2 separate regions of the Homo sapiens genome follow, and region 2 is linked to region 1. The links come from fine-mapping of genetic effects on gene expression. A gene starts in region 1. The other region holds a variant in brackets. All regions are shown on one strand. Distances are from middle to middle.

Evidence for each region.
Region 2: its variant is fine-mapped to the expression of RHOBTB2-AS1 in whole blood (INTERVAL, PIP 0.91).

The regions. Positions count from the first base shown.
Region 1 is chr8:22,994,961-23,004,120 of GRCh38, reverse strand. RHOBTB2-AS1 (RHOBTB2 antisense RNA 1) reads left to right here and starts at 4,316. Exons shown (of 2, transcript XR_007060857.1): 1 at 4,316-4,442. RHOBTB2 (Rho related BTB domain containing 2) reads right to left here and starts at 4,573. Exons shown (of 10, transcript NM_015178.3): 1 at 4,016-4,573. RefSeq lists an enhancer at 1-366 and silencers at 3,864-3,913, 4,244-4,413, 4,634-4,893.
Region 2 is chr8:23,027,663-23,037,192 of GRCh38, reverse strand. It overlaps TNFRSF10B (TNF receptor superfamily member 10b), which reads left to right. Exons shown (of 9, transcript NM_003842.5): 3 at 6,321-6,434; 4 at 7,472-7,583; 5 at 8,591-8,862; 6 at 9,440-9,471. Among named protein-coding and RNA genes, the nearest start is that of RHOBTB2-AS1, 33 kb to the right of the region's middle. RefSeq lists enhancers at 7,947-8,447, 8,448-8,948. The variant C/T (reference allele first, on the strand shown) is at 3,792.

The DNA.
Region 1 (9,160 bases):
CGAGGCCCTGCCCTGTCCCCTCTCCAGAGAGGGCAGCTCACTCATCTGCTCTCCTCCTCCTTCCCCGGCAGAGCAGTGGCAGCAGAACAACAAACAGCTGAGAGAAGCAGAGTCGGCCACGTCCCCACCCCTTCCCAGCATGCCTGAGGGCAGGGCACTTTAAAATTTAATGGACTTGTCAGAACTGGGCAGCAGCTCTCCTGGCCTCCACTCTTTCCCTTGCCCTCTCTGGTGGTGGTGGATTTCCAAGCCCTAGCCTGCCTAAGTGCATGCTTCAACCCCAGACCCCAGTCCCCTTTATGGAGATGCAAGAGTTTTTCCTCCCAGCCTCTCTAGGATGGGGAGGTTCCTGGATGCACCTGACCAGCCCAGGGGCCTCCCTTTCTCTATTCGGGGTCTGTCCTGTTGCCCATGTGTCATGCTCAGCTACAGGTCCAGCTTTCAGATGCGGGTGAGGGGAACCACAGGCCTATGATGATACAGTCAGTGGCCAATGGGCCTCTACTTCCCCTACGGGGGGCTGTCCTCCCAGCACCCTGCCCCCAGCGTCAGAGAGTGAGATCCACCTCCACCCTCTTCTGCCCTTCCCATTCCTAGGGAGGATGATCCTCAGGCTGAAGATCCCAGGCAGCTGGCACTCCTAGGTGATGTTCACTAAACTGGCTACATGGGCGATGGGATTGCCAGAAAGCAAAAGATCAGAAATTTGAGCCTGAATTTCTGGGCAAATGCTTGCCTCAGTTGCCTTCGATGTTGAGCAGAGAGGAAGTGGCTTGTCCACCCCCAGAGAGGGATGGCTTGAATGAACAAACAGAAGGCACTTCTGTAGTCAGATGTCATGTTCGTGTTTAAAAATCTGTCGCCAGGAGGCCCTGGCCTCGGCATCCACCCTCCTGGGATTAGGGAGCAGGGGCAGGGCCAGCGTGATTAGGACGCTTGGTTTCGCCAGCGTCATCTGCCCGCCCCACTCACATTCCTGTGTGTATGAAAGTCGTCTGGGGGGGCTTTAGCAGCCCGGAGTCATCCCTCCTAGGCTAAGGAAGGCTGAGCTCTGAGTGCTGGAGGCTGCCCAGGCACCCTGGCTGCTGAGCCATCCAGCCCAGAGCCAGGCCACCAGCAACAACAGGGAGGCTCCATTCCTGCTGGGCTGTAACTGGATGCCAGCATGCAGGGATGCAGACCGAAATATCCAAGTAACGATAGCAACTGGGATCCGTGCGAGTGGATGCATCTCAGCAACCTAAGCAAAAAGTGCAGCAAGGACTTCTCAATGAGACAACCTCCTCCGCCTTTTTGGAATGTTACAGGATCTGGACCCTTCAACGAGGTCTCCATGCAGTGCCCTCATGGTCTCCAGGGCAACTGTACCACCCCTTCTCTCTCCTAACCCTCCCTCAGCAGACAACCGTTTTTTGTTTTTGTATTTTTTTGAGACGGAGTTTTGCGCTTGACACCCAGGCTGGAGTGCAGTGGCATGATCTCGGCTCACTGCAGCCTCTGCCTCCTGGGTTCAAGTGATTCTCCTGCCTCAGCCTCCCAGGTAGCTGGGATTACAGGTGTGTGCCACTATGCCGGCTAATTTTGTATTTTTAGTAGATACGGGGTTTCGCCATGTTGGTCAGGCTGGTCTTAAACTCCTGACCTCAAGTGATCTGCCCGCCTTGGCCTCCCAAAGTGCTGGGATTACAGGCGTGAGCCACCACACCTGGCCCAGAGAACTGTTAAGAACTGTTATTCTAACCACAGGCTTCCTCCTCCCAATTCTCTCTCCTGAACTGAGGACCGGGAACCCCACTTTGACAGTTCCTGATCTCAAGTTGAGGAATGTGCTGGCGCCAGGAGGCAGCATCTGGGCTGTGGTTTCTGTTTTGTCGAGTGAATACCAAAACAGATATAATCCCAAATACAAAATATGTGCAGCTGGAGGATAAAGATTAAAACCCAAGAGCCAAAAGAACTTCTTTCTCAAGTTCCGATTCTCCCAGCATGTAGGTCTGTAGACAGAAGCGGGGGAATGAGGAGGCCTAATGGAGGGATGCCAGTTCTCAAATTCAGGAGCACCTTGACAGTGAGAATAATGCCAGAACACCAGCAGAGCAGTGCTGGGCCAAGTTCAGCTACTTTGTGATGAAAACACTGCTGCCCACCTGTGCTATGTCACCTCTAGAGTTAAGCAGTGGTCAGCCAATCAACAAGTGGAAATTGACAAATACTGTGCCATGAGTTTAGACATCAGACCTTCTGGGTTGCGCAACCCCTTCCATCCATTCCCCAGCCCCTTCAGCAGTCCCCTTGTCCTTCAGCTGCCTCTCTGTTTGTATCATCTCACCCTTTCTACCCTGTCCCAACTGCCTGACTGGCAAACTTCACTGTCCTATCTAGGAAGAGGCAAGTCACTTATATTTTCTGGGCATCAGTCTCCCCCTCTGGGAAATGGGTATGAAGACATTGGAAGAGTCTCCTGAACCGTGGTTAATTTGTGCCAAGAGAGGCTGGGCTGAAAGGAGGTATTTGTCTTCTTATGTAATGTGGTATTATATAATGCTAGATTGCATATCTATATGTGTAATTATATCTGTCTTTAAGATACAGACTGGCCCAATTCAAGTGTTAGAACTCTTAGTCTAATCAGGCCTGTCTTAAAGGAGGATCCTGTCCTGGAGAGAGTGTGCCAAGAGTAATATAATTTTTGCCCTAGGATGTTGCTGATGTTGTATCATTGCTGATGTATGGTGATACAGCCCACTCATTGCTGATATATGGTGATACAGCCCATTCAGTGAGCCTCTCAGCTTCCCCTCTCCCTCCGGCTCTCTCTTCTTCCCTGACTCCAGACTCTCCCTCACAATTGCCTCATCCCCACTCAATCAACCTCCATAAACTATGACCTCCTCACCACCCAGCCCTGGGCATCACAACCCCCAACTCACTCCTCTTCCATGACAATCGCAAAGTCACTGGCATGTGTTCCTTCCATCCCTGTCCCATGATCCCTGTGCCCCTCCAAAAACAGCCTCCTGCCCACCGCTCTCCCAGCTCTTTGTACTTGGTGCAAGCCAAAACCCAAGGTGTGCTGAAATTAGCTACAAACCTCGTGCTCTCCCAGTCCCACCCCCACACCCCTACACACACTCTTTGCAGAGCTCAGAAAGGGCCCCTTTCCCTCCCACAGCTGATAGGAGGCTTGTTCATCTGTGGCTGCCCTAGTCTGGTTGTCAAGGAAACAACAGAATCTCCCTGGGAGCCTGGCTTGTCTCCTAGCAACCAGTATCCCACATCATCTTACAAAATGGGAATGGGAGGAAAATCCTGAAAATGAAGGTAAAATCAAGGGAGATGGATTGAATGGAGAATTGGAAGGAGAAGAACAAAGAGAGAGTGGACTCCTAATTCGGGGAGGCTCCCACGGGGGTCGCTGGCATTGCAAGAAGCCCCGTGCAGATCCAACAGAAAGCAAGGCCCAAAGGGACCCTGAATGGTCAGATTAAAGAAATGCAAGCCTAAACACAGATAAGCCCCCTCAAACCTAAAATGTGGACACATCACCAAACACCGCCAAAGATCTCCCCAGTAGTTTCACAGAACTCAGTTACATAGACTGCAATGGAGTTGAGTTCAAAGAACCAGCTCCGGAACCGCCAGCAAAACACCCCAATTCCACTGTTGTTTTGTGTTTGTTTTCTTAACAGAATCACTCCCACCACTCTGGACCGTTTTTCCTTTTTTCTGACACGCTACTCTGCACACACACAAAATAGAAATTTAAAAATTTTTAAACATCGAGAAGGGGGAGGGGCACGACAGGCCGAAGCAATCAAGTCATCTTCCTTTCCCTAGAAACACCGGAAAGGATTAGGCTCCAGCCCCGCTGTACCCAGCAGCCGAAGCCAGAGCCCAGGGACTAGCGGGGCCCGGGGAACGTAGCGAGGGGCGCGGCAGGGCAGGGAGGGCGGAGCGGCGCGTCTGCAAGGGCTGCTGGCCACCCCGCCATAACCGCAAGCAGCCATCTACTTACACCACTACATGTGACGGGGTGGCTTCTAGCGTGAGGAACACATCTCTTCCTGCTGAGCACGCTCATTTTAGTGAAATGTCAGGGGTCCCTCCGCGCCTGCAAGTTGGGACGACGCCGGCGCCGCCGCGCTGCTGCTGGGCTCCAGCCTCCCGGCCAGCTCGCGGCCACTCAGAAACTCCGGCAGGGCAGCCCAGGCCGGACGTGGGCCCAGGAGCGGACGCGCGCGCTGCACTGCAGCCGCTGCCCCTTCCGGATCAGCATCGCCCCGCGCGCCAGGCGCCCAATGTCACGGCGGCGCGCGGAGCCGGGCTGCGGAGGCAGCGGGCGGCGCGCAGGGGCGCCGGGAGAGGGGCGAGGCCGCCGCCGCTACGCGCCCGGGCCCGCGGCGAAGGCGCTGCCGCGAAGACGCCTGGCGCTGCAGTCCCAGGTACCGCTCGCGACCTCCTTTTTTCATTCACAAAAAAAGGATAGGGAAAAAAAAAAGAAAAGAAAAAAACGGGAGGGTAAAAAAAGGAGGAGAAAAAAATCGCACCCAAGACGACAGCCGTGACGGGCCCCGCCCACTGCCGCGCGCAGTTGGTGGAAAGCGTTCGGGGGGCGGGGAGGGGGCGGGCGGGGGAAGAAGGGGATTGGACGCCCCGCAGATCCCGCCTCGCAGCACCGCTCCCGCCCACCGCCCGCGCTCTTCCGCCCCTCCCGCAGCGACGCCGCGGGGAGGGTCTCGGCTCGCGGGTCTGGGTGGCGCCGGTCCCTCCACCTGGCGAGGCGCAAAGGCTCTCCGGACGCCCACGGGGTTTTCCCCTTTCCTTCGGGAGGCGGGGGAGAACCTCTGAGAGGCATCCTAGTGCACCCTGGAAGGGATGCTAGTTGGAGGAGAACGTGTGGTTGTAAGCCCAGGCCCCCACCACTTGCCCACGGGGAGGCGACGGCAGGGGCAGTCGGGGGGGCGGGGGGCGGGGGCCGGGTAGGGACGAATAACCGGCGTTTCCATACAAGCCCTCTGCTGCTTTGGGAATTTTCGTGGCACTTGAGAGCCTTCCTCCCTCCATGGCCCTTAATGAGTTGTGGGGTGGGTACCTGTACCACGTTACCTGTCTCCCACCTAGGCCTTCTTCAGCGGGTCCCCACCTCCATCCCATCCCCCTCCTGTTGCCTCCTGGAGTTCAGTAATAGCTGCTAATCTCTGAAAGAAACACCATGAAGTGAGTAGCCTCGAAAATCGTCCCTAAGCCTTCTTTGGGTTTTCTGCCTCAATTTACCCCTCTGTAAAATAGAGAGATTCTAAGGTATAACATCTATAACCTGAGGGGTCCCTAGAAGACACTTTCCATATTCAAGGCTGGTTTTATCAGGATAATCTTTTTTTTTTTTTTTTTTTTTTGAGTCTCCCTCTGTTGCCCAGGCTGGAGTGCAGTGGTGCAATCTTGGTTCACTGCAACCTCCGCCTCTTGGGTTCAAGCAGTTCTGCCTCAGCCTCCCGAGTAGCTGGGACTACAAGTGCACGCCACTATTCCCAGCTAATTTATGTATTTTTGGTAGAGACGGGGTTTCACCACCTTGGCCAGGCTGGTCTCGAACTCCTGACCTCGGGTGATCTGCCTGCCTTGGCCTCCCAAAGTACTAGGATTACAGGCGTGAGCCACCATGCCCAGCCAGGATGATCTTGACTGCTAGTGTTAAGTAGTCAGCTCAGTCTGGTTTGATTCATCTCCTCAGTTACCTCTGGACAATTTTTAAAGCCCAGACCAGCCTGCCACCCACCTGAACCGCCTCCACCACTCCTCCATCTTGTGCTCTGAAAATGCAAATCCACTCTAATATTAGTTTATGCAAAATATGATTAGGAAGAGAAATTTACTGCCAAAAGAAAGCCGGGTTAAAAATGAATTTTGTGTTGTCTGAAGCATGCTTCTCATCTGTGAATGCATATACTTGGAAGCTGTCCCTCAAGGTGTTTGTGATCAACGTGCCTACCTACCTGGTCAATGTACAGGAAGTGCTCGGTTGTTGGAGGATGCTTCTCCCACCCCTTTCTCAATCTACTCAGAGCTAGCCAAGAGGTTAACAATGACTGACAGTGCTACTTACTTCTCATTTCTGGTTAGAACTCACCCTCCATAAACCAGAAAGTACTTATTTGAATACATATTTAGGAGAGAAAGTAAACCATGCTCACACATGTTCTTCCTCCACATGTTTGGCATTGAAGAGACTTACCCCATCTTCTGTGTGCCAAAGAGCCCCTGCGCCAGAGAAAATCATAACTTGAGATCTCTGCATGATTCCCACGGCAGGCCAGGGTCTCTCCCACGGACACCCTGTTCCCTCCACCCACCTCCAGAGACCAGCTGAATGCCAGATGCCAGTTGACATCACCTTTCACCTGTCCTGGCAGGACCATAGCCCCTGTGGAGCAAGGAGTAGGAAGACAGAACTCCCGTCCACCCAAAGTCATGAAGCAGGAGAGGGTGGCTGCTCGGACTGTAAGCTAGAGCCAATGCCCTTTCTGCCTTGGGAGAAAAAGCCAGCTCAGCCTGGAAGCCTCAACCAGGCTGGACTGTGTGAATTCCAAGGTGTAGTGTTGATTGGGGTGGAAGGGTCTTGGACAAAAATGTGGGTGTCAAATGAAATTGCACCCCCACAGCCCCCGCCCCGCCCCGCTCACACTCAGTGAACTGTTTCAGGCAGAGGCAGGAGCTTTGCTGGGGAGGTTCCCTCAATTCCCAGCCCTGCTTTTTGCATGCAGTTCCCTCTTTCAGCCTTTCTCCAAATCAAAGTCCTTCCCCATCATTTCACCTCTAGGGCTGTCATGGTTGGCGCCCCAATCAGTTCCCTCTTATCATCAGAGTTCCTCCAAGTCCCCACCTTCTCCTACCAGTGCCCCCCAGCCCATCCTCTGCAGCCCCTTGTCACTGTCAAGCCGCCCCATCCATGTCCCACCCTAGGCCGTCTGGGGACCTCTGCAGACCTCCTCCTCAGGCCAGCCTGCGAGGAGCTCCAGCGGTTCACTACTCACAGCTCAGATGGCAGCATTCCCCACGCTGTATGAGGGGCAGACCACTAGCAAGCTGCAGCCGCCGGCCTGTGCCCCAGTTGTGGCTAAAACCAGGCCTCTTCCCAGCCAGCCCTGGCCAGGACTGCCCCGGGACCCCCACTCTGCTATTCAAGACAGCCTCCAGCCCCTGGTACCCCAGCTGAGGATCTGGCACGTCCCTTCATCTTTGCCCATCTCTCCAATGCCAGATCCTGGAAAACAGGGCCACTCCCAGAGGCCAGGCTTCCCCACCAGCAAGCAAGGTGCTGTTGGGCCTTCTCATGCCCATCCCTGTCCCCAGCTGTTAGCACCCGGCAGGCAGCAGCGTCTCACAGCACAGGAAGCCTCCCACTCCCTTCACTGCGCCCTCCCACCCCAGGCCCTGAGGAGTCCATTTTCCTCTATTCAGGTGACTTCTCAAGGCAGGCCTGGGTGGGAGACAAAAGCTCCTGGCCTCTTTCTTTCTCTGCCTCCTCCATTCCGTTACATACACAGACACACAGACACACACACACACACACACACACACACACACACACACACACACACACACACACACACACACACACACACACCAGCCCTCTCTGCCCATTTGCTGCAGCTTGGAAACACTGGTGTGATTCCGAGGAGCAGTTCAGCCTGAGCACTGACTCCCCCCATTGCTGGCTTCCCAAATCTGCTTCTGCTGGTGGGTCTGGCAATGTCCTGCCATGTGCCTGGCTGCGTGGCTGTAGCCCAAGGGCTTCCTGGCAGCATGGAGGCAGGTTCCATTCTACAATCTCCTGCCCCTGCCCAACCCCAGCATCTCTTCCCTCACCAAATCCCTCTTGTGACCCACCTCCCCAGTGACATAAACCCCTGGAACCTGTCCCCAGAAGGCACCCCCTCTATGCCTCCCCACACCACCCTCCTCCAGGCCATCACGCGGCTGCTGTTTTCCTGAAGCCGGGCAGATGCCTGCCTGTGAACAGGAGGCTTTTCTGGGGAAAGAGAAACCTCCATCCTGGCTCTTAGCAAAGCGCAGCAGGCTCCCCGGCCAGTCCCACCAGCGTTGCTCTCCCTGTGGCTGTGAAGGCCCCTTCCCAGTGCCAGCCCAACGCAGACCGCCTGGCTCAGTCCATCCTCCAACCTGCACCTTCCCTTTGCTTCACAGGCAGCTTTACCCTTCAACACTTTGCAGGCTACTAACCGCGCTTTCATGGCACCCCTCTCCTGGAACACTACAGCCTCTGCGGAGCCCACCCCATGGGCCTTGTGACATGAGCTCCGCCCCCCATCCCCTGCCATGTGCAGGCTGGGGCACGTGGTGTTCCTACCCTGCAGCTGGGGCAAAGTTCAGAACCAGCCATGAGCAAAAGCAGAGGCATTTCAAGATGCAGAGCCCCAGCAGGGTGAAGGAGCTGAATCTGGAAAGCCTAGAGTCTCTCAGCCTCCCTGTCCAGGCCTTAAGGGACACCATCAGGTCCCCACAAGGATACAGGAAGCTTCTGGGACTTTGCACAAGCAGTTCTTCAGTCCGAACACTCTATTTCTACTCCTTTCACCAGATAAATGTGTACTCATCTTTCAAGTCTCAGCCTAGATATCACTTCCTCCAGCAAGCCTTCCATGAATACTTTCTTACACTTGACAAAGTGTAACTTTCCTGTTCTTCCCCTGTGCTCCCCTAATAATACCAATCACACCAATCTATCATTGGGTTCTTCTCTGTCCTTGATTGTACTGAGAACTCCCTGGGACCGGCAGGGGAGCTTTCGTAAGAGCCAGGATGCAGATTTCTCTTTCCTCAGACAAGGTTCCTGCTCACAGGCCAGGAAGCAACACTATAATGCTTGTTCAGGCCGGGTGTGGTGGCTTATGCCTGTAATCTCAACACTTTGGGAGGCCGAGCTGAGAGAATAGCTTGAGGTTAGGAGTTGGAGACCAGCCTGGGCAATATAATAAGACCCTGTCTCTATTAAAAAAAATTTTTAAAAAAGATAATGCCTATTCGAAAAGGTATTTTGAACCTGGCGCGGTGGCTCATGCCTGTAATCCCAGCACTTTGGGAGGCCAAGGCAGGTGGATCACCTGAGGTCAGGAGTTTGAGACCAGCCTGGCCAACAAGGTGA
Region 2 (9,530 bases), 33 kb before region 1:
GATGGCTGGGAAAGAAGCTGACTGGTAGTCACAGAACAGGTCATCCTATCCACCTGATTATTAAAATCCTTCCCTGCTAAGATCACTTTTTGTGAAGATATTTGTGTCACATGGGGCACAAATATCTTCATGGTTTTTTTACCCATTGAGAAAGGTCTATCCACACACCTCTTCCCCAGACTTCCTTGTTATCAGTTTTCCTTCAGAGCCTCTGACCCTCCAGCCAAATCATTGACCACAGCTCATGAATCAGTATATAACTACATGTCTAGCCATTCTTCCCTCAAGCAAAATGAACAACCAGGTGTACTGCTCAGAGTTCTGCCCAGTGGCAGGATCTCTTTTTTTTGAGACGGAGTTTCGCTATTGTTGCCCGGGCTAGAGTGCAATGGGGCGACCTCGGCTCACTACAACCTCTGCCTCCCGGGTTCAAGTGATTCCCCTGCCTCAGCCTCCCAAGTAACTGGGATTACAGGCATGTGCCACCATGCTCGGTAATTTTGTATTTTTAGTAGAGACGAGGTTTCACCATGTTGGTCAGGCCAGTCTCGAACTCCTGACCTCAGGTGATCCACTCACCTCGGCCTCCCAAAGTGCTGGGATTACAGGTGTGAGCCACCACACCCGGCCTAGCGGATTTCTTTTCACCACTGTCCTTCAGGGACGTCCCAGACAGTGGATGTGATGCTGCAAACATCCACTTCTAAGGGTTACCTGTATGTGGTGCAGAACCATCTGTAAACCTTCTTCTGGCAACTGACCATAGGGAATTCCTCATGAGGCCATAAGTGCAGGCCAGGCAAAAGAAAGTAATATTGCAGGAGTGGGGATCATGGGCACTTGGGCCACTTCTTCATGTAACTTTCTTGTGCCTTCAGGGCCTATTTAAGCCCAATTTTGTATATATACCAATTACATTTGAAAATGGAAATGGAAACTTTAGGCTGTATGTGCCCAAACTTATGGCTTGGTAGGCAAAATAACACTCAGTTCACGATGAGCAGTCAGGTCGTAGAGTAATTTGGTGGCCTATGGTTAACCATTCAGTCTGCACTAAGGCCCAGAAACAAGCCAAGAGCTGTTTCTCAAAAGGAGAGTAGTTATCTGCAGAGGATGGCAAGTCTTTGCTCCAAAACCTAAGGGCCTGTGCTGTGGTTGACCTAGAGTGGGCTACTAAAGGTTCAAAACAGCATTGCTGTCTGCCACCAATACTTCAAGCACCGTTGGGTCTGCTGGGTCGTATGGCCCAAGTGACAGAAAAATGTCTACGGCAGCCTGGACCTGTTGCAGAGCCTTTTCTTGTTCTGAGCACCACTCAAAACTAGCACATTTTTAGGTGACTTGATAAATAGGCCAGAGAAACACACCCAAATGAGGAATATGTTGCCACCAAAATCAAAATAAGCACACTAGGCATTGTGTCATTTTCTTGGTTGTAGGGAGGTGGGGGTGGCAGATACAACAATTTATCTTTTATCTTAGAATATCTTAGAAGAGAAGGAATATCTTATGTGCCACATCATTCAACAACTAGGAATTTGTTTCCCAGTTGTTGTCCTTCTACTGAGGTAAAAGGCCCTTGAAATTTTGTCAGATTTATTTCCCACCCCCTGACATGCAAATGTCTTACCATTAAGTCTAGAATAGTTGCTACTTCTTGCTCGTGAGGTTCAATCAGTATAATGTCATCAGTATAATGGATCGTCTTGTGTGTTATCTTGTGGAAGGGAAAGGCCATCAATATCCCTGCAGGCCAGATGTGGTGGCTCGCGCCTGTAATCCCAGCAGTTTGAGAGGCCAAGGTGGCTGGGTCACTTGAGACCAGGAGTTCTAGACCAGCCTGGCCAACATGGTGAAACCTCATCTCTACTAAAAATACAAAAATTAGTTGGATGTGGTGGCACACATGGGTAATCCCAGCTACTTGGGAGGCTGAGGCATGAGAATCGCTTGAACCCAGGAGGTGCAGGTTGCAGTGAGCTGAGATCATGCCACTGCACTCCAGCCTGAGAGACAGAGCAAGACTCTGTTTAATTAAAAAAAAAAAAATACCTGCAAACTAAATTATGACATAGGGCTGCGAGTTGATGCATCCCGGAGACAGGATAGTGAGGGTATATTGCTGGCCTTGCCAACTGAAAGCAAACTGCTTCTGGGAGTCTTTATTGACAGGTATGACCAACAAAGCATTTGCCAGTTCAACACCTGCATACCAGGGTACCAGGGATGTGGCGATTTGCTCAAACAATGAAACCATATCTGGGACAGTTATAACTGGAATCACCACCTGGTTAAGCGTATGATAATCCACTGTCATTCACCAAGATCCATCTGTCTTTGGCACAGGCCAAATAGTCAAGTTCAATGGGCATGTGATGGGAATCACCACAGATGCATCCTGGATGGTGGTAATGATCTCTGCAATCCCTCCAGGAATGTTGTATTGCTTTTGTTTTTTTGTGCTTTACAGGCAGGGTATCACTCTGTCACCCAGGCTGGAGTGCAGTGGCACAATCATAGCACACTGCAGCTTGAACTCCTGGGCTCAGGCAATCCTCCTGCCTCAGCTTCTTGAGCAGCTAAGACTACAGGCATGTACTGTCATACCTGGATAATTTTGTATGTGTGTGTACAGATGGAGTCTCACTGTGTTGCCCAGGCTGGTCTTAAACCCCTGGCCTCAAGTAATCCTCCTGCCCTGACCTCCCAATGTGCTGGAATTACAGACATGAGCCACCATGCCCATCTGGTATTGCTTTTGATTTACTATTTTTTTTAAGTAAATGCAAATCTGGTGGCTTCCACCTGGTCTTTTCCACCATAATAGTCTTCACTTCACATGTCAGGGAATGAAGGTGGGGATTGTGCCAGCTGCTGAGTATGTCTATTCCAATTACACATACTAAAATGAGGAAATCAGACAGGATGGGTGTGGGGACCCACTGGCCCCTTTCTGAGATGGACTTGAGCTTAGTTTGAGTAATGACAACATAACTTCAATGGTATGCAAACACTGTGCTCCTGTACTTCTCCGTCTTTCCTCCTCCATCTTGTTGTTATAGATCACATCCTTGTACATTGTGTGCCCATTAACATCAATTTGTAATTATTGTTTTCTGCATTTGCTCTTTAAATCATATAAGTAAATAAGAGGATTTACAAACCAAATGTACCATAATACTGTGCTACAGACTGAATTGTGTCCCCAAAATCATATGTTGAAGCATTACCATCCAATGAGATGGTATTTGGAGATGGTGCCTTTGGGAAGTAATTGGGTTTAGATGAGGTCATGAGGGTGGGGCCCTCATGATGGGATTAGTGCCTTTTTAAGAAAAGACCCAGACAACTTGCTCTCTCTCGCTTGCTCGCTCTCTCTCTCCCCCCCTCTTCTGGTGTGTGCAAGGAAGAGGTTACGCAAATGCACAGCAAGATGGTGGCCATCTCTAGAACTATGATAAATAAATGTCTATTGTTTAAGCCACTTGGTCTATGGTATTTTATTATAGCAGCCTAAGTAGCTGCGTACCAGCATTTATATTTACCTAAATAGTTACCTTTTCCAGGGTTCTTTTTTTTTTTTTTTTTTTTTTTTTTTTTTTTTTTTGAGACGGAGTCTCGCTGTCGCCCAGGCTGGAGTGCAGTGGCGTAATCTCGGCTCACTGCAGGCTCCGGCCCCTGGGTTTCACGCCATTCTCCTGCCTCAGCCTCCCGAGTAGCTGGGACTACAGGCGCCCGCCACCTCGCCCGGCTAATTTTTTTTTGTATTTTTAGTAGAGACGGGGTTTCAC[C/T]GTGTTAGCCAGGATGGTCTCGATCTCCTGACCTCGTGATCCGCCCGCCTCGGCCTCCCAGAGTGCTGGGATTACAGGCGTGAGCCACCGCACCCGGCCTCCAGTGTTCTTTATCTCTTCGTATGCCTTTGAGCTATTATCTAATGTCATTACATTACCTCCTAAAGGATTCCTTTTAGCATTTCACAGGGCAGATCTACTAGTAATGTGCTCCATTACCTTTCATTTATCTAAGAAGGTCTTAATTTCTTCTTCATTCTTGAATGATAATGTTCCTGGATATCAAATTCTTGGTTGCAGGATTTTGTATGCTTGTGTTTTTGTTTCTTGGCACTTTAAATATGTTACCCACTCCCTTCTGGGCTCTATGGTTCCTGGTGAGAAATTAGCTAATAACCTTATTGAGGTTCCCTTGTACATACTGAGTGGGCCACTTGCTACTTTCAGGATTTTCTGTTGGTGTTGGGCTTTTGTCCATTTGACTATAATGTGTCTCAGTGTAGTTCTCTTTTAACTTATCCTGCTTGGAGATCATTGAGTTTCTTGGATGTGCAGACAAATGTTTTTTAAAAGTCTTGCACCTCCTTGTTAAATATCATTCCTAAATGTTTTATTCATTTTTATGTCATTGTCAATGAAATTGTTTTCTTAATTTCCTTTTTGGATTGTTCTTTGCTACTGCAAAACTTTTACGCTGAAAACTATCAAACATTGCTGTAAGAAATTTTAAAAAAGCAAAATAAACAGGAAGATATTCCATGTTCATAGATCAAAATGGTGTTAAATTACCCAAAGCAATATACAGATTCAATGAAATCCCTACCAAAATCTCAGTGGTGTTATTTTAAAAATGGAAGAACTTATATTCAAAGTCGTATGGAATTAAAAAGACTTATTGACCAAAAACAATCTGGTAAAAGAAAAGCAGAGTTGGCGGGACTCACACTTTCCAATTTTGAAACATATCCTCATTCCAGGGCAGCTTTAGTCCCCTTTTCTTTGGATCATTCTTTGACTCTATAGAGATTCCTCCCGTTTTCTTCCCATGGCTGATGGTGTGAGCTTTAATTTTGAAGGCTTTTCCCATTGTTGTATGACTTCTGCTCCTGGTGTATCTTCCACTGGCTAGGAGCTCATTCAGAACAGGTATTAGGACATTCTTCTGTGCATTTTAAAGGTCTAAGATGGCACTGTCTAATATAGTAGTCCCTAGGCCCATGTGATTGCCAATCACTTGAAATATGTGAGGCAGGTGGATCACGAGGTCTGGAGTTCGAGAACAGCCTGGCCAAGATGGTGAAACCCCGTCTCTACTAAAAACACAAAAATTAGCCGGGTGCGGTGGTGGGTGCCTGTAATCCCAGTTACTCGGGAGGCTGAGGCAGGAGAATCACTTGAACCCAGGAGGCAGAGGTTGCAGTGAGCCGAGATCGCTGCACTCTAGCCTGGGCAACAGAGCAAGACTCCGTCTCAAAAAAAAAAAAAAAAATGCTACTGCAAATTGAGATGTGCCATGAGTTAAAATATACGCAGGATTTGAAGACGTACTGTGAAAAAAATGCTGTAAAATATCTCAATGTTTTATGTGGATTACATATTTAAGTGATATTATCTGGGGTACATTAAATTAAAATGCATTATTAACATTAATTTCACCCCTTCTCACCTTTTTTAATGTGCTGAGTGTGGATTTAAATTTCATATGTGGGCTGGGCACAGTGGCTGACACCTGTATTCCTAGCACCTTGGGAGTCCAAGGAGAGTGAATCACTTGAGCCCAGGAGTTTGAGACCAGCCTAGGCAACATGGTGAAACCTCGTCTCTACAAAAAAAAAGTACACTAAAAATTAACCCGGTGTGGTGGTGTGCACCTGTAGTCCCAGCTATTTGTGGGTCGGGGGGAGAGGGAGGGTCCGGGAGGTCGAGGGTGCAGTGAGCTGAGATCACACCACTGCACTCCAGCCTGGGCTATAGAGCAAGACCCTGTCTAAATAAATAAATAAATAAATAAATAAATAAATAAATAGGCCGGGTGCAGTGGCTCACGCCTGTAATCCCAGCACTTTGGGAGGCCTAGGCAGGCAGATCATGAGGTCAGGAGATCGAGACTAGCCTGGCCAATACGGTGAAACCCTGTCTCTACTAAAAAAATACAAAAATTAGCCAGGTGTGGTAGTGTGTGCCTGTAATCCCAGCTACTCAGGAGGCTGAGCCAGGAGAATCTCTTGAACCCAGGAGGCGGAGGTTGCAGTGAGCCGAGATCACGCCACTGCACTCCAGCCTGGGTGACAGAGTGAGACTACGTCTCAAAAATAAAAAATAAAATAAATAAATGTGTGGCTTATATTTCTTTTGGCAGTGCTGGTTTAAGGTGTGTAAATGCAGAATTGATGAACTGACCAAGCTAGGTAGAGGAGATTTCCCTCTTTTGGTTCCACACATCCCTGAAAGAGGAGTCCCCCAGCCACCACTGCCAGCTTCTGGGAATCCTGTGGCATTTCATTCACCGGCTTTTCTCTCCCCTCCCAGGACACCATATCTCAGAAGACGGTAGAGATTGCATCTCCTGCAAATATGGACAGGACTATAGCACTCACTGGAATGACCTCCTTTTCTGCTTGCGCTGCACCAGGTGTGATTCAGGTACAGAACATATGGACCCCATGCCTAAAGGTGGAATGCGGGGTGATGACATAAAAGTTGTAGCTAAAATGGGATCAGGAGACCTAGATTCTGGTCCACCTTGGTCTTCATCATACCATGTTCCATGATTTTGTCTTTGAGCTTTTTAATAAATAAAACAGGCCCGGCACAGTGGCTCATGCCTGTAATCTCAACACTTTGGGAGGCATCACTTGAGCCCAGGAGTTTGAAACCATCCTGGGCAACATGAGAAACCCCGTCTCTACAAAAATATAAACATTAGCCGGGCATGGTGGCGCGTGCCTGTATTTCCAGCTACTTAGGAAGCTGAGGCAGAAGGATCTCTTGAGCCCAGGAGGCCGAGGTTGCAGGGAGCCGAGATTGTGCCACTGCATTCCAGCCCAGGCAACAGAGCAAAACCCTGTCTCAATAATTAATTAAAATAATAATAATACAGAAATTATTTGTATAATGTATGCTACATGGTAAGGAAATCTTTTAAACTGTCAGCTGCAAGGGGGTGGGGCCATGAGCCAGGCCAAGTGGACAGGGCTGGATCTCAGCAGTGGCACAGGTCTGCTTTGGGGCCAGGCTCTCTCCCCTGGGCTCTGTGCTCCTGGCAGGTGCTCGGCCTCACTCACCCTTCAGGTTCTCAGGCCTCTCCCTCCTCCCCAGCAGGCTGGGCCTTGGGGAAGTCCCCCAAGGGCTCCTCTCCTTGCAGTCTCTCAGGTGATCCCTTGCACTTCCCTTGCTACTGGCCATGCAATCTAAACGATGCTTGTCCCCTAAACGGTGCTTTCCCCTAATCTAATGTAATAAATAATGAACTGTGGTCCTTTTGTATGACTCAACGAGTGTTAGTGACAGCTGAAGGGTGGGTATCCTGAATGAGCCATGAGTGTGCTGGTGCAGAAACTGGCCCTCAGAACTCCTTGGCAAACTGAGTTGAGCTGAGTAGCAGGGTCTTGGGGTGGGGAGGAAGGGTCAAGGGACACATCAGGAAAACACATTCCCAAAACCTTATGCTCTGTCGTCAGGTGAAGTGGAGCTAAGTCCCTGCACCACGACCAGAAACACAGTGTGTCAGTGCGAAGAAGGCACCTTCCGGGAAGAAGATTCTCCTGAGATGTGCCGGAAGTGCCGCACAGGGTGAGACAGGAGCCGGGGGCTCCCAGTAGCTCCATGGAACCCCAAAAGACCCAAGTCTCCTTGTACCCCTGTCTCTCCCCTGACAGCACCCGCAAGGGGCATCCTTGAGGCTGTGGCTGCCCCTCCTGGTCCCTCTGCGTGTCACCACCCCTGCCCCCTGCAGCAGCCTCTTTCCACCCCTCCCCAGCACGAGTCCCCTTGACCAGGCTGACTTGTTCACTGACCACAGAAGGCCATGACTTGGGGCCCATGATAATTTTAGGGGCCCATGAAATGATTTAATTTCTCTTGAAATAAGAAGAATGAGTAGAATGCAGCCAGGCATATATTCATCTTTATACCAATTCAGCAATAAAATGTATTTTTTAATATTTTTATGCATGCAGGGGCCCATAAAGACAAAAGTGCCCATGGCCCACAAAAGGCATAATAAGGCCATGGGTGGAGCTCCTTCAAGTTCCCATGAGGACCTGAGCCCACCCAGCCGGCCTCACCCCTGGCCCCTGATCCCTCAGTAAGACCTGTCTTTTCCCTATTTGGGTTTTAGGGGCCAAGAGTAATTTGCTCTTCTCTGGCCCCCCTAGTATTTGCTGTGATTGGGGGAAATGGGCAGACAGCTGGGGACAAGAGCTCACTTTTGTGGTTGACTGGAAGACCGGACTCATCTTGTGGCCACACGGGCTTGTGACCTTCCCCTGGAGTGTGATTGCTCCTAACGCAGGCCTCCCCTGCAGCCCAGGGAAGCTCAGTGTGTGCCCAGCACAGAAGGCTCCTGGAACTGCAGCTCTGACCCCAGAGCAGGGAGGCCGAGGGGCTGAAGTGCGCATGCTCAGACCCTTCCCCAGCCTCAAGAAGGGAGCACAGGGGGACCCACTGCTGACACGAGGAGACTGTCCTTCCCCTGACACCTTCTCAGGGACACTGGGGAGGGAGGGTGGCTCCTCTTTCATCCCACCTGGCCAGCTTTCCATCAAGAGTCCCCCCTCTCCCTCTGTGTGTGTACCCAGGTGTCCCAGAGGGATGGTCAAGGTCGGTGATTGTACACCCTGGAGTGACATCGAATGTGTCCACAAAGAATCAGGTACAAAGCACAGTGGGGAAGTCCCAGCTGTGGAGGAGACGGTGACCTCCAGCCCAGGGACTCCTGCCTCTCCCTGTTCTCTCTCAGGCATCATCATAGGAGTCACAGTTGCAGCCGTAGTCTTGATTGTGGCTGTGTTTGTTTGCAAGTCTTTACTGTGGAAGAAAGTCCTTCCTTACCTGAAAGGCATCTGCTCAGGTAGGTGCTGGCTGAGGGCGGGGGCACAGGGCACTCTCTGCCCTGCCCCCTCCCACCCTATTCCCACAGACAGAAACGCCTGCCCCTGCCCCAAGTCTAAGTGCCTCCAGCCTGGCTCTATCCTCCTCCTCGTGGTCACCCCCATCCCCACATCCCGTGCACCCCCCAGGACCCTGGTCTCTTCAGTCCCTCTCCCAGGTCTGGGGGTCCCCATATCTCCCAGCCAAGTCCAGGAGGGCAGGGCCAGTTCCTCCCATCTTCAGGCCCAGCCAGGCAGGGGGCAGTCGGCTCCTCAACTGGGTGACAAGGGTGAGGATGAGAAGTGGTCGTGGGATTTTTTCAGCCTTGGTCAGAGCAGAACCAGAGATTTTCCAAGTGTTTGTTTTTACTCTAGTTCCCCTTCTCATCCCCCTTCCTCAGGGTGTCTCTGAGTTGTAAGGCCCCATTCTGTCCCCAGCCCCAGGGCTCCTTGTCCAGTGTCCCAGCCCCCAGCCCAGCCCTGCGCCCCACTGTCCTCTGGGAGGGGGGTGCTTCATGGGCCCCTCCCTTCCTGCTAAGGAGACTGCTTCTTTTTTAGGTGGTGGTGGGGACCCTGAGCGTGTGGACAGAGTGAGTTGATTTCTCCAGGAGCTGGGGGCTCAGGGGTTCAGGAACTGCTTCCTGGGACA